2 separate regions of the Homo sapiens genome follow, and region 1 is linked to region 2. Evidence: fine-mapped expression QTL. Tissue or cell type: sun-exposed skin. Region 2 holds a variant in brackets; the other region holds the start of a gene. All regions are shown on one strand. Distances are between the middles of the regions.

What was found. PIP is the estimated chance that this variant, and not a neighbour inherited with it, causes the effect.
Region 1: it holds the start of CAPN8, and the variant in region 2 is fine-mapped to the expression of CAPN8 in sun-exposed skin (GTEx, PIP 0.91).

The regions. Positions count from the first base shown.
Region 1 is chr1:223,661,311-223,669,414 of GRCh38, forward strand. It overlaps CAPN8 (calpain 8), which reads right to left and starts at 4,391. Exons shown (of 21, transcript NM_001143962.2): 1 at 4,100-4,391. The coding sequence starts at 4,336.
Region 2 is chr1:223,543,889-223,551,992 of GRCh38, forward strand. CAPN8 (calpain 8) reads right to left here. Exons shown (of 21, transcript NM_001143962.2): 15 at 7,072-7,129; 16 at 5,430-5,494; 17 at 1,343-1,411; 18 at 884-962; 19 at 179-295. Among named protein-coding and RNA genes, the nearest start is that of CAPN8, 120 kb to the right of the region's middle. RefSeq lists enhancers at 6,868-6,917, 7,318-7,377. The variant G/A (reference allele first, on the strand shown) is at 3,526.

The DNA.
Region 1 (8,104 bases), 120 kb after region 2:
CACCCATTAGAATGGCTACTATCAAAAAACAGAAAATGGCTGAGTGCAGTGGCTCACACCTGTAATCCTAGCACTTTGGGAGGCCAAGGTGGGCAGATCAACTGAGGTCAGGAGTTCAAGACCAGCCTGGCCAACATGGCAAAACCCTGTCTCTACTAAAAATATAAAAATTTGTTGGGCATTGTTACGAGTGCCTGTAATCCCAGCTACTCGGGAGTCTGAAGCAGGAGAATCACTTGAACCCGAGGGGCAGAGGTTACAGTGAGCCGAATTCGCACCATTGTACTCCGGCCTGGGTGACAAGACAAGAGTGAAACTCCATCTCAAAAAAGAAAAAAAATGAAAGAAAATAACAAACATTGGCAAGGATGTGGAGAAATAGGAACCCTGTGCACTGCTGGTGGGAATGCAAAATGGTGCAACCACTATATAAAACAGCACTGTGGTTCCTCAAAAACTTGAACGTAGAACTGCCATATGATCCAGCCATGGGTCATATCTTTTGGGTATATAACAAAAAGAACTGGAAGCAGGGTCTCAAAGAGAAGTTTGTATGCCCATGTTTGTAGCAGCATGATTCACAATAACCAAAAGTGGAAGCAACCCAAGACCAACAATGGACAAATGAATAAACAAAATGTGGTCTATAGACACCACAGAATACTATTCAACCTTTGAAAGGAAGGAAATTTTGACATATGCCACAACATGGATGAATCTTGAGGATATTATGCTAAGTGAGTTATGCCAGTCACAAAAGGACAAATACTGTATAATTCCACTTATATGAGGTACCCAACATAATCAAATTCAAAGAGACAGAAAGGAGAACAGTTGTCAGAAACTGGGGAGAAGGGCCAGGCGCAGTGGCTCACACCTGTAATCCCAGCACTTTGGGAGGCCGAGGTGATTGAATCACTTGAGGTCAGGAGTTCCAGACCATCCTGGCCAACATGGCAACACCCGATCTCTACTAAAAGTACAAAAAATTAGCCAGGCTTGGTGGCAGGTGCCTGTAATCCCAGCTACTCAGGAGGCTGAGGCAGGAGAATCGCTTGAACTGGGGAGGCAGAGGTTGCAGGGAGCCAAGATCGCGCCACTGCACTCCAGCCTGGGCAACAGAGAAAGACTCTATCTCAAACAAAAAAAAAGAAAGAAAGAAAAAGAAAAAAGAAAAGAAAGGAAACGAAATTCGGGGAAGAATGAATGGGGAGTTTTTAAATGTGTATTTAGTTTCTGTTTTGCAAGATAAAAACAATTCTGGTGATGGAGGGTGGTGATGGTTGCATAGCAATGGGAATGTACTTAATGCCACTGAACTGTGCATTTAGAAGGGGTTAAGATGGCAAATTTTATGTTATGTGTATCATACCACAATTTAAAAATAAATGAGTAAATGCAACAAATGAACTTACAATGCACCACATTTCTGGATACCCTGATCTCTTTGCAAACCCTTGAAAGGCCTCTTGGGAGGAAAAAATAATAATGAAGCATTTAGGATCAGGCTAATTTTCTCAGCATTCAATGCATGTTCCTCATAGAGATAGGATCAGAATCTTTACTGATTCAGGAGTCTATTCAATAACTGTAAGATCTTAGAGGATAAGTCTGCCTTCTCTAATGTACCCTTGTGGTATGTGAGCATGAGCCTGCCCAAAAGCAGCTGTGTGATAATTTTTCACTGATGATTAGGGAAGGAGAGGTTAAATTTTGACACGCATTTATTTACTCAACACGCACTTGAAAACTCCAAATAGGAGTCCTTCAATTGCACCTTCCGCATTACTCAGGTTCTACTGCCTCATGCTCTGAATTTTACTTCCTCCTTTGACAGCCACAAATCAGCACATCCAGTCTACAATTACCGCATTTCCACAGACCACGAGGACAGGTGAAGACATAGTTTGGGGAAGAACAGGCTATGTGGTTAAGGAGGTAAAGTCTCTAAGGATTTCAAAGAAAGGAGAAAAACTAAGCAAAGGTTAACTGATACCTGACTTTGGTCTCTAAAGGAAAATTTTCTCCCCCTCCTTCCTCTCCCCCAAGACCCTTGGGATCTGCAATGGTACCCCTCCCTAAGGCTTTTCACCACCCAGTTGTGACAACCCAGGTTCCCATGGCCCATCATTTATGCCTCTGTAGAGTTCTTACTTCATTCTGCCTTGGGCATCTGTCCTTTATTCACACCTGTGTCTCCCCACACTTTCCATCAGAGCTGAGACCACAGCTCCTTCCTCAGCTTCTCCCTGACCACCTTTCCAATCAGTGCAGAGCCCATGCCTGGCACAAAATGGAAGCTCAAAAAAACTGTCTGTTGAAATGAAATGTGGCTGTCTTGAAATTAGAATAAAAACCATTACTCCCAATCTGGATTTTATCAACATACCAGGGTAACCCTATAGGTTTCAGAGGGGAATGGGAAGATGAACCACGGTGGGCGGGAGGGCAGCATGGCCAAGGAGTTATTCTCAGAGATGAAAACTGTTAGGCAAAATCAGCAGGATCAAAGTAAAAAGGGTAGAGGTAGCTAGCTGGAGTTAAATAGTGATTTTGACCATTTTAGAAGAAGTACTCTCCCTTTGTCTTCCTGTTTCAACCACTGCCAAGAAAATAGGAACCCTGACTTAATTTCCCTATCATGGTTTAGAAGACAAAAGGTGCCCAGGTCATTTCATAGCCCCTCTCCTGAGACGTTGTTATGAGCTCTGTTGAACAGAGCACTTTGTATGGATGAGCTCAATTCTCACAACCACTCTGTATGGGAGAGGTTCTCATCCCTGAGGAATCACTTGACAAGGGTCACATAGTGATAGGTCATGGGTCTAGGTTTTGGGAGGACTGTTCTCCATCCCTTGCCCTTGAGCTTTGGGTAGTATCAGTAACCGCATCCAGGAGCCTCTGCCTTCCGTCTGCATCCACAGAGCCCCAGCTCCCACCTCTCCACTCACCAGCCCTGATGGAATAATGTCAATTCATGACCTTGCGCAACCGTGCACCTTTCAGCAATGATGTTGTCACAATTTACCTGCCAGCTGATTGCATCCAGCACTGAGTTGTTCCATTGTGCACTGGCCCAGGGACCATATGCAGTAATAACAACTACGTATTCTGCATCTATTATGTTCTGGGCACTATGCTCTGAGATTTATCTCTAATTCTCATACCAACCCTGAAAAATAAGGTGCCAGTAAATGCCATTTTACAGATGAGAAAACTAAGGTTCACAGAGTTTACCGGCCCAAAACAACACAGGCAGAGCTAGGATTCAAATCTATCTTACCTAGTTCCAAAGCTCATCCATGCTCTTCTCTCTATACCTCACCATCTCTGAACAAGAGTTCAGGCTGGGTGTAGTGGCTCACATCTGTAATCCTAACACTTTGGGAGGCTGAGGTGGGCAGATGGCTTAAGCCCAGGAGTCCAAGACCACCCTGGGCAACACAGCACAACCCTGTCTCTACAAAAATATGTAAACATTAGCTGGGTGTGGTGGCACGTGCCTATAATCCCAGCTACTTGGGAGGTTAAGGTAGGAAAATCACCTGAGCCCAGGAAGGTTGAGGTTGCAGTGCACTGTGATCGCACCACTGCACTCCAGTCTGGGTGACAGAGTGAGACTCTGCCTCAAAAAAAATAAGAGTTCAAAAGGTGATGGGGGGGCCAGATGCAGTGGCTCATGCCTGCTATCCCAGCACTTTGGAAGGCTGAGGCAGATGGATCACCTGAGGTTGGGAGTTTGAGACCAGCCTGACCAACATGGAGAAACCCCATCTCTACTAAAAATACAAAATTAGCCAGACATGGTGGCACATGCCTGTAATCCCAGCTACTCGGGAGGCTGAGGCAGGAGAATCACTCAAACCCAGGAGGTAGAGGTTGCAGTGAGCTGAGATCATGCCATTGCACTCCAGCCTGGGTGACAGAGCAAGACTCCATCTCAAAAAAATAAAATTAAAAAAGGTGGTGGTGGAGGGATCTGAAATATGAGATCCAGACACTTAGGGTCCACAGCCTCAACTTCTCCCTCAGTTCCTCCTGATCAGATGTAAGGCCCCTCCACCTTGTATGTCACTCAACAGCAAGCCCGCTTCCTTACCGTGGGCCGCTTCCAGATGATGCCTTGAGTTTGCGGAGAGCCTGGTCCAAGATCCTTGTAGCCCAAAGCTGATGGACATGCTGGGAACTCAGGGTCCTTAAATAGGACCCCTGAGTCCAAGCACTGTTGCCTCAGGGTCTTGAAATCCTGGCCCAAGTACTTCAAAGCGTTTTGGTTGGAGCCAAGACCTTGAGTGGCTGCCCGCTGCCTAGATACACCAGCTGCCTGGGCTGCCATGGCCGTGGGCTCTGTAGGGTGGACAGAAGGGCAGGGCTGCACTGTACTCTCAGACACCTGCTCCACTGGGAGGGGAGCTATAAGGCACTAAAGGAGGTGGAGCAGACAAACATTTCACCTGAGGCCCTGTTCCAGAAGGAAGTGAGTCATGGCCAGGGACAAATATGTACCCAAGGTCCAGGCCAATCTGCCCCACCTTCTTCTTCTGCCTTTTGCAAATAATTTGGGGTCTGGGAACTTTCCAGGGCCCATCCCAGGCCATTAGCCTAAGAAATCCATTAGGATCTTGACCCCACCCCGGCATTCCCTCCACACACCTCTTTGCAAGACCTGCTTACCTTGCTTCAAGCCCATTGACTGAGATGAGAAGGCTTATTGAGCAGCTTGAAGCAAATATTCATCAAGGAATTGGAGGCATGGCTCTGAGCAGGAAGAAGGCAAGTAGTTACAGGGGCCTCCTTTCCTGCCAGAAATGTTTTGGTGCATATTTCCTAGGAAGGCAAAAAATACCAGAGAGTAGTGATTCACAGGCCAGATTTGGAATAAGCCTGACTGGAGGAGGTTCCACCTGTGAGTGAACGCTTTGGCCTCTGACTGCCTCGGTTTCTATCCCAGCTCCCCCGGTAATTTGCTCTGTCATGTTGGGCAAGTTGTTTAACCTCTTTTCTCCTAAGTTTTTTTATCTATAAACTGGAAGAGCATAGGAGAGCCTACCACAAAGGGTTGTTCGGAAGAGTGATGAGATAGTACATGTCATCTGCTTAGAACAGTATGAAGTAACATTCAGTGAATGTCAGGTATCACTATTCCTTGAAGCCAGGATTCCCAGAAAGGCCTTGGAATCAGGAGCCTTGATTCCAATCTCAGAAGTGAGTTACAAGCTGTATGACCTTGGATTAGTCACTTCTCTCTGGGCTCCAGTTTCCTACATCTGGTCTACCCGAAGGATGTCAACCACACCAATGCTTTTTGAACTTCAGTGTTTGTGGCACACTAGAAAATGGTCCCCCAAGGATACCAGGTCCTCATCTTGAGAACCTGTAAATAGTCCCTTATCTGGGAAAAGGGTTTTTGCTGCTATGACTAAGTTAAGGATCTCGAGATGGGAAGATTATCCTGACCCTAAATACACAAGTGTCCTAAGAGGAAGGCAGAAGAAGATTTGACAATAGACAAAAAGGAGAGGTGATGAAATGAGGCAGGCAGAGGTTAGCGAGATCCTGCCCCACTCCAGGGAACACCAGCAGCCACAGGAGCTGGAAGGGGCAAGAATGGATTCTCCCCTAGAGCCGCTGGAGGGATGTGGGCCTTCCAACACCTCGATTTCACAGCCTTGGGACTTCTGGCCTCCAGAACGGTGACAGAATACATGTATGTTGTTCTAAGCCACCATATTTGTGGTCATTTGTTACAGAAGACGCAGGAAACAAATATAGTGTGCAGAAGAATCCCCTGGAGCACTCGCTCAAAATGCTGATTCCCTAATAGGTGCTACCACAAATCCTCCACCCCCATCCCTCCCAAAAAAGAGTTCTAATTCAGGAGGTCTGAAGTAAGACCCAGGAATCTGCAGTTTTTAAACCAGTACCACAGAGATGATGCTAATACAAGGATCCAGGGATGCCCTCTGAGAAGCTCTGGACCAGCCGACCTCTGAGGCCTCCAACTCTGACCTTCTAAGCCAATGACAGTCCACGTGTTAAGCACTTAGCTAGGTGGGTAGGTCTGAGCAAGTAGAAAGAAGGGTTGCTCCCAGGTGTTCAGAAAAACATGTGGTTTCCCAGGTTTCATCAGAAACTCAAGGCCAGGCCAGGCATGGTGGCTCAGATCTGTAATCTCAGCACTTTGGGAGGCTGAGGCAGGAGGATTGCATGAGCCCAGGAGTTCAAGACCAGCCTGGGCAACATAACAAGACCCAGTCTCTAAAAAAAAAAAAAGAAAAATTAGCTGGGCATGGTGGTGCATGCCTGTAGTCCCAGCTACTCAAGAGGCTGAGGTAGGAGGATCACTTGAGCCCAGGAGGTCAGGTCAAGGCTGCAGTGAGTCACCCACTCCAGCCTGGGTGACAGAGTGATGAAACCCTGCCTGAAAAAAAAAAAAAGAAAGAAAGAAAGAAAAAGAAATTCAAGGCCAAAATGGCCTTCAGAGGCTAAAGCTAGCCTCAGAAAGACTATGGTCCATGCCCCCTTGGGGACCCCGTCTTCCTTCCCTCAACATCACTTTCCCTTTGATTCCACATCTGCCCACTATTAAGCTCATCTAGTGTTCACAGTTACATTTTCACCGGCCCACACAGTTGACACGGTCTCACTTGGGTGGCCCCAACCACCCCTAAAACCAGAACCACAACTCCATTCAGTCAAAACAGAATGGTCATTGCAAATCTTGGCTGTGTCACTGCCAAGCTTAAAACCTCCAATGGCTGCCCACTGTTCCTGGGAGAAGAGTAAGGGGGATTTTGCACAGCCCATTAGACCTTGAGCAGCTGGCCCTGCCTACCTTTCCTCCTGCTCCATTCTCCCCTCCTGGCTTTCTTTCCATTCCTGGAATGTTGTGTTCTGTCCTGCTTCAGGGCTTGACACCTTCTGTGCCCTCCACCTGAAATGTTCTTCTCCCCACCCCAGCCCTGTTCATCCAGTAGACCTGGGTGCCCCAGAAAAGGTTTTCTGGACAACTCCACACCTCATACTAAGCCATTTTCCCCTCTTATACGCTCTCATAGCAACCTGCAAGACCCTGTCCCGCACCGATTCCTGTAATCATTTAATTAATGCCTCTCCACCCCATAAGGCTCTGATCTCCACGAGGACAATTACCCCTGTTTGTTTTACTCATTGTTGTATTCCTGAACCCTAGAAAGCTCCTGGAACATAGTAGGGACTCAATAAATATTTGTTGCATGAATATACACCTACAGGTATGAGATGTGCTGTGGATAAACGTGCACCAGGTATAATGGACCTGACACCTTCCGGCAGGGTCATTAGTTCATTAGCAAGGATCCTATGGGATTGTTTTTCTTGCCTCTTTCTCCCCTACACCTCCCAGAAACATTCCCCTTAGACTGACTAAAATGAACAAGCCCTTCCTCCATCCAATCACAGAATAAGCACAGCTGGTAATTTTCCTTCTGCACAAGGGAACTCCTTCGAGGTTAGCAATCTCCTTCCTACCCCACCTGCCTGAATTACCTCGCTCCCACATCCAGATGCTGTGCAAACAAACCCTTCCTCATCGAGGCTGGCAGGTCTGAGCCACTGAAAATAGAGCCTTCCTTGTATCCAGGCACAAAAAGAACAAGTGGAGTTGAGAAGTCTCTGCTCCCCAGCGCCTCATGAGCAGACAGCAAACATCTATGTGTTCTCCAGCCAGGTACCCAGGAGGAAGCAGCCTGCATCCACTGTCTCTGTCCACCTGGACAGATGTCTCTCCAGCCTCACACCCCAGGCACCACAGGAACCAGTGCCAGCTCCTTGCCAGGCAGCCTGAGGATCCACTAAGAGGTTGATGAGGGTGTGCAGACACAACTGACACACGCCTGGCAGCACCTCCTTAATAAGAACACTTCTCGGCAAAGAGCCCAGGTGAATGCTGCCTCTTCTCTGTGCACACCAGCCAAGTGGGGATGCTGAGCTGTATCTATACATGGCTCCTCTCAGTCAAAAGGATCAAGGCTGTATTATCCCCTTAGAAAGGAAGATAAATCACTCTGGTTGCACCCAGCGGTCCAAGTGTTCTTTTCAGATGATTAAAGTTTGCAAAGCTTGT
Region 2 (8,104 bases):
CCCTTCAGGTCCAGCTGCCCCTCGCCCCCAAGGTGCCAGCATTCCAGAAGCCCTGTCTATCATTTTCTGGGTCCCTGGCCTCCTAAAGGCAATGTCTGGTTCTGCCCCTTGGCCCTGCCCCTGCCCCACCTTGCACCTTGGGATTAATAGGATGGGGCTGGAGGACAGAGTGACTCACTGAAGAGGGTCTCCAGGCGGATCATACAAGCCACGAAGCTGTCAAAGTTGATGCCAAGCTTGCTGCACGCATACCGCAGGGCAATGGTCTGCTGCACCTGGCTGTTGAGGGTGAAACCTGAGGGCAGAGGGAGCCTGGGTCACAGGTAGAGTGGAGGACTCAGCACTGTCTCCCATAAACACTCAAGGAGCTGACATCCCAGGGGCCCCTCTGTGGTTCTGTATCAATCTGCAAACCAGGCCTGACTCTGCCTTCTCCAGGGGATCCCAGAAGGTGTCCTGCCATCCATCCCTCTCCTTGTAGCTACTCCTCACCAAGATCAGCCTAATTCCAGGTCCAGCGCTAGTACCAGCACCAACTCAGCCATGGGTCACATCAGCAAGCAAAAGCAGAGAAGGTGAGGGGGCTGCCTGTCTGGCCAGTTCCTGTCTGTCTCCTTCATAGCCCCTTCCTCTGTAATTGCTGTCACCTTCCCAGTAACAGGCAGAGATCTTGGAAAAATTCTAAAATATTATGCTATATGGAATCGAGCAATATTCTCCCCTTCCTGGACAGGGAAGGTACTCAACAAAGCTCTGTTGTTGCCTTGATATCCCATATAAGAAAGCTACAAATGATGATCATTAGCAATCATCATCATGAGAATAAATATTTACAATGTGCACACCTGGATCCCAAGACCCTGTCTACAGGATGTGTCCTCACCTGCCTTCCTGAGGGCTGTCCTCATCTCGTGGGCATCGATGGTGCCCGAGTGGTTATAATCAGTTTCCCAATAGATCTCCTAAAGCAGGAAAGAAATCCCAAGTAGAAAACAACCATTCACGGCCCCTGCCAGAACCATCTCCCTCCACCACACTGCTTTCTCAAAAGGCCAGGGACACTTTCAAAAGGAGACCCTATTGACTCCTCCCAAGAAGGTTTCAGAGCAAGCATAAGAGCTTGGCCAGTGCTGGCCCCTTTGCTGTCTGAACAGCAGGGCTTTCAGGGCAGTGGTTGGCATGAGAGTCTCTCATTGCCTTCTTGTTCCTTCATGACCAATGTGCCCAGGACTCAATAGTTTTGACCATGATTAAGGATGTGGTCAGAATACAATGGACCAGGAATGAGTGTAAGGGAGGATTAGAACAGAGGAGAGGATGCCCAGAAGGAAAAGAGAGTTACCAGATACTTCTGAATCTTCAGCCAGAGCGTCTTGAATTCCACCGCCCCCAAAGTGCCCGTTCCATTGCTCTAGGCACATTAAAGACCAACATGATTGAGTCCAAATTCTACATGCCTTATAGATTTCTTTCTCTTGTGAGCTTGCATGAGTGCCTTAAGGCCTTAGTGAACCTTCCATGTCTGTGGCAAGCAGAGCAGTGGGGGTGACGGTGTGTAACAGGTTCAAATAAAGATTAAAAAGTCAAACGTGCACCAAGGCTCTCCTCTGAGGCCAGGCACAGAGCTAGGAACAAAGGGCAAGTCATGAGCTGGCCAATCTGCAATATCGTGAATACCCTAATCATCCTGGTTTATTTACAGGGTGGAGCTGTATGATCTGTAAATTCGCTTCTACATTTACATTTCTGTGATTGATCATTCAGCTAATTAGAGTTTGTTGGAATGTCAAAATGTTATGGGAAAAGACATCAGGAGCCAGGAACCATGGGACTGGGAGTCTAAGCCACAGAATCTGCTCATAGGCCACTATACAACCAAACAGGAGGATATTATGAGGGATTTTCTGTGTCCAACTTACATTCACTCCACAACTTTTTTTTTTTTTTTTTTTTTTGAGACGGAGTCTCTCTGTCGCCCAGGCTGGAGTACAGTGGTGTGATCTCAGCTCACTACAACCACTGCCTCCAGGGTTCAAGCAATTCTCCATGTCAGTCTCCCAAGTAGCAGGGATTACAGGCACCCGCCACCATACTCCACTAATTTTTTTTTTTTTTTTTTTTTTTTAGTAGAGATGGTTTCACCATGTTGGCCAGTCTGGTCTTGAACTCCTGACCTCAAATGATCTGCCTGCCTCAGCCTCCCAAAGTGCCACGACTATTTTTTTTTAACGCTGTGCTAGTCAATAGGGATTTAGTTTTGAATGCACTTATGCTCCTAAAGTTAAGTTTTTTAGAGACTCTACAATTTTCTCACCAGTCACAACTAATCAATAAACAGTGCGTATGTTACAGCACCAATGTTAAAATTTTGAAACAGCCCCAGCTACTCAGGAGGCTGAGGCAGGGGGATTGCTTGAGCCCAGGAGTTTGAGGCTGCAGTGAGCTCAGATTATGCCTGTGAATAGCCACTGCACTCCAGCCTGGGCAACATAATAAGACCCCATCTCTGAATAAATAATTAGAATTCTAAAACAGACTATCACTTTAATTAGCCAAACAAAAAGTCCTGTAAGCCTCATACTTTAAGAAAGTCTGTGTTCTTGGATCTATAATCCGCACTGAGTGTTGAATGCATCATAGCCTTCAAATCCTTACTAATAATTCAACCAACACATCTCAGAACAGTAGTATGCAAAGGAAGCTAACACTCGGGGCTAGGTACTCTACATACTTGTATCTCATTTCATCCTAACAATAGCCACACAAGCTAGACATAATTATCCCATTTTCCAGGAGAAACTGAAGTTCAGAGCATTTAGTAACTTCCTCAAATTTATACACCTCAATAAGTGGTAGAGCCAGAATTTGGACCCCTGTCTGTTTCAAAACCTTTGTCCCAGAACACCAGTGGTCTTCAATTCCAGATAAAATTGCTTGCAGAGACCACACCTATGGAATCAGGATCTCCAGGAATCAGGGGTTTTTGTTTGTTTTGTGGTTGTTGTTGTTGTTGTTGTTGTTGTTGTTGTTGTTGTTGTTGTTTGAGACAGAGTCTCACTCTCTCACCCAGGCTGGAGTGTAGCAGTGTGATCTTCACTCACCGCAACCTCTATCTCCCAGGCTCAAGCGATTCTCGTGCTTCAGCCTCCCCAGTAGCTGGGATTACAGACATGTGCCATCACGCCTGGCTAATTTTTGTATTTTTAGTAGAGACAGGATTTCACTGTGTTCCAGACTGGTCTCGAACTCCTGGCCTTAAGTGATCTGCCCACCAGTGCCACCCAAAGTGCTGGGATGACAGGCATCAGCCCCTGCGCCCCGTCAATTTTTAAAATTTTTTTTCTAGCACTTTGTAGGACATGTGAAAGACTGTATTTTTAAACTGTATTTTTAACACCCCATGGGTGATAAAGTACTGATACATGCTATAGTAATTGAAACATCATGTTCAGTAAAAAAAGTCAATTACAAAGGACCACATATTGTATAATTTCATTATATGAAATGTCCACAATAGACAAATTT[G/A]TAGAGACAGAAAGTAAATTAGTGGTTGCCTAGGGATGGTCGTGGAGGTTGGGGGAAATGGAGAGCGACTGGTAATAGGAGTACAGGGTTTCTTTTTAGGGTGATGACAATGTTCTAAATTATGTGATGATGGTTGCTTAACTCTGAATACACAAAAGCCATTGCCTGATATACTTTAAATGAGTACGCTGTATGGTGTGTAAATGATATCTCAATAGAGTTGTTATTTTTTTAAGGATTCCATGGGTATTTCTGCTGATTCAGAACCACTGCCCCACACTACCTAAACTGTGGAACAGAAACTCCTGAAGAGTGGCAGAGAGTCACACTCCTCTTTGAACCGTGAGAGACACAAATACCATTGGGAATAAAGAGTGGGTAGATTACAAGGCAACTCTCAAATCTAAACTGAAGTCAACAGATGGGGTTTGATGAGAATGATTCAGAAACCAGGGAACTATTTGCAGTAAAGTGAATCAATACTTAACAGTTCCTTGCAGTCCACAAATTAAATTGTCAAGCATGGAGAAAAGACACGAGGGCTAAAGAGCCCCAGCCTCATGCAGGGAGTGGCCGACTGAAGCTCAGAGGCCAAAAGATAGCACCAGCCCTCCATGGTGGATCAGCCACGCAGAGGTGGGCACACATGCTCTGTCATCCAGGACCACTCTGCATGACAACCATGCAAAGGAAAATCCTTCCTCCCGTCCCGCAGTTAATGAAAGAACCCACAGTAAAGATCATCATGGATGAACAGACAGAGCTCATCATGGATGAGGCCCCAAGGAACTGAGAAAAACCCTCCAAGGCTCCAATTTTTAAAGAAATCACCTTCACCATCAGCACTGTGATAAATGGCAACCTGGACCCACTGTGGGCAAAGCTCTAAGGAAGTGATGTTACACCACTCACCCTCTGTGCCTTCACACCTAGAAGGTTCCTTCCACCTAGAATGCCCTGACCTTCTCCATTCCTCCCAAAAACTACTGCCCATTTGCTATAGACTGAGTGTTTTTGTCCTCCAAAATTTGTATGCTGAAACCCAATCCTCATGTGAGGATATTAGGAGATGGGCCTTTGGGAGGTAATTAGGTCATGAGGGTGGAACCCTCAGAAATGAAATTAGTGCCCTTATAAAAGGAACCCCAGGAAACTCCCTCACCCCATCTACCATGTGAAGTTATAGCAAGAAGATGCCATCTATGAACTAGGAAACTGGCCCTTATCCACCACAAAATCTACCAGCACCTTGATCTTGGCCTTCTCAGCCTCCAGAAGAGTAAGAAATAAATTTCTGTTGTTTATAAGCCACCCAGTTTATGGTCTCCTGTTACAGCAGCCAGAACAGCCTAACACACCATACTTCAATATCAAGTGAGGGTTAAACTAGATCAGGGAGAACAAATAGATTTTATCTTGTGTGATAACTCTAAACTATCAGTAGTAGCTGTCCACAAGCCATGTTAAGATTCTGAAGCAAAGATCAGATAGTGATGGGGAGAGCTTGGGAAGCAGGGAACGGTAGAGGGTGGGGGTGGGGACGGGTAGAATTGAAGGGGAGGAGGAAGATGAAGAGATGAACAGAGTGTGGAGGGAGCAGGTGCGCAAATGCCCCATGCTTGCTACCTCCAGATTACATGATTTTAAATAAGTCACCTAAACACTGCACACCTCGGTTTCTTCACCTGTGAAACGGAGATAATCTCAAGCTTTCTGAGACACATCCATGATATGATACATTTTCCTTTGAGGCTTCAAGTACAATCCTTGACATATGCTCCATGCCTGCTCTCTCCCCTTCTCATTTTTTACCCGTCCCTTCCTTCTAACTGGAAAAGGTGGAGGAGTCTTTAAAAACCGGACGAAAGTAAAAAAAAAAAAATAATGCAACATTTAAAGGATACATCCAACAGACTGATCATTTCCCTGCAAGTGTTGATGTTGAATCCATCGAATTTTATGTCTGTTCCTAAAGATTTAAATAGAAAAGGGGAGTGGGAATCGGATCATTTGAAGGTGAGGGAAAGAACCTCCACGGTAGAAGACCTCCAAAGATACCATCCAAGGGTGTGGAACCGAACTTGGTCTCTGCCAAAAGGGGAGAGCATCATGGCAGGCTTGTGGGCAGATACGCCTGAGCCTCCTGGTGCCGTGGGAGATAGAACAGACAAGCACCAGCATCCAAGTACAGCATCTGAACCTTGGCTTGGCTCCCCACAAGCCACAGACTTCAGCAAATTAATATCTTTGAGCTTTAATTTCCTCCTCCATCAAATGGGAATAATCATGATAGTAACAATGACCATACTTGCCCCAAAGACTGGCTGGGTATTAACTGAGATAATGAAAGTGAAGTTTTAGCCCAGGCTTGATATATGATAAGTTCTTAATAAAACAGCTAACTTTATATGGCTAGGTATTGTTATAAGCACTGCACATCTACTCTTCAAAATCACTCCGTGTGGTAGATGCTATCATTATACCCACTTTATAGATCAGGAATCTGAGTCCCAGAGAGGTTATATGATTTGCTCAAGGTCACAACCAGTAGGGGGCAAAGCTAGGAGTTAAATGCAGGCCAGCCAGCTCCACAGCCTGAGCTTGTAATCACAACACACAGCCACTCAATGACAGCAGCTATCCTTCCTTACTAAATTGCAGGCATGTCACTGGAGCTCCATCCCTGGCCTCCACCCTCACCTTCCATATACCTGGGAGCCAAGACAGGTGCCAAAGACCCTGCAACCCCTTCTCTTTCTCTCCACTCTTCAACAACTGCAGGAGCAAGAGTGGTGTGGAGAGGAGACGGGCCTGTGCTCCGAGCCCTGGGGATCCATCTGCTCAGCCCTGGGTTCGTCCCTGGGAAGGGTATGACTTGGCTCCTGGGCCAAGCCCCTGCTTCCTGCATTCTCAAGCCCTGTCCTGCTGCAGTGAGTGAATGAGAGCCCATCACTCACTGGAAGACTTAACCTGGCCCATCCCTGGACCCGGAAAGAAACCAGCTCCCTGTGTCCTCCTGTGGGCTGGGGCTCAGAGGGGAGATGCAAATCTTTCCTCCTGACAGCTCTGAGGCTTGCAAAAATCTGAAGATGGGGAACTGAGGACAGTCTAGGAGAGTCAGAATCATCCCTTCCTTCCTCCTTCCCTCAAGATGAGCTACAGAACTAGATCTTTCATCTGCAGAGGTTTCCACAGTATCCAAGTTATTAATTTTGTGAAAAAAATTCACTTAAGTCAATCCCAGCCCAGCTCTTTTTCTCCTGGGACTCAGCCTGCAATTTCACTTGACACTATGGAGCTTTGTTCCTTCAGGTGCTGGCTGCTTGCCAGCACCAGCCCCGCCTTCACCTCCACCCTCGCCTCCCCGTCTTCTGCCTCTCCTTCTTCCCCTCTTGTCTTGCTGGACTGAATCAGGGCTCCTGGGGTCAGACACCAATGCCCTTTCTCCCACCTGTGGTGCTGCCAGCCCAATGCCTGCCTACCCATCCCTCACCCTGCCCCAGCATCTCCTACGGACTTTCTGAAAGACCCCAAGAAGGAACTTACTCTTGGAAAACGCCTCATTCAAAAGTATCTTGAGTGCATTGGCAGTAATCTCAGAATCCTAGAAAGAGGAACCCAAATGCAAATCATGTCAGGCCCTGACAAGTTGTTTCAAGACAGTAAATTAATGCAGTGCTTCCTCACAGTCAGACACCAGGCCCACTGGCCCTGTGAGGTTTATTTGTTTTTGTTTTTTGTTTTTTTTTGAGACAGTCTTACTCTGTCACTCAAGCTGGAGTGTAGTGCCGCAATCTCTGCTCACTGCAACCTCCATTTCCCAGGCTCAAGCAATTCTCCTGCCTCAGCCTCCTAAGTAGCTGGGACTACAGATGCGTGCCACCACGCCTGGCTAATTTTTGTATTTTTAGTAGAGACGGGGTTTCACCATGTTGGCCAGGATGATCTTGAACTCCTGACATCGTGATCTGCCCACCTCAGCCTCCCAGAGTGCTAGGATTACAGGCATGAGCCACCGTGCCCGGCTGGCCCTGTGATTTTAAAAGCAGGTGGCATCTTTAAAAACTCAAATTATCCTCTTCTTTTGGGGATCCCAGCAGCCTGGCCAGAGGTGTGTTAGTGCCATGAGTGTGGTACACACCGTGGCAGAAGGCTGCCATGCCAGGGTCCTGCTGCCTTTCACAGGGCTCGCTTGAACAGGGATAAAGTAACAGGAACAGCAGTGATAGGATTGAACCAGATGTGCCAGAGCCAGTGTGGAAGATCCTTAAATCCTCAGCACAATTCCACAGCCATTTTCAAGTTAAGGAAGTCGTGATTTTGTAAACTGCTGAACACTGTATACATGCAACATCATTTGTCATTTTCATGTGACGTAATTGCTTGTGGTTTGTAGCTACCAAGAGGCAGAGCTAGACTTGGAAACCTAAGGTTGGTTCACCCCAAAGTGCCGGCTTTCCCCACCACACCTACAGGAGTTGGTATTTCACATAGGAGCCCATCTCAAACTGGGGGCAGAGATTGAGAGAATAGCATATTCTGTGTGCATCTGGGATAAACACTGAGCCAGAGGGAAGAG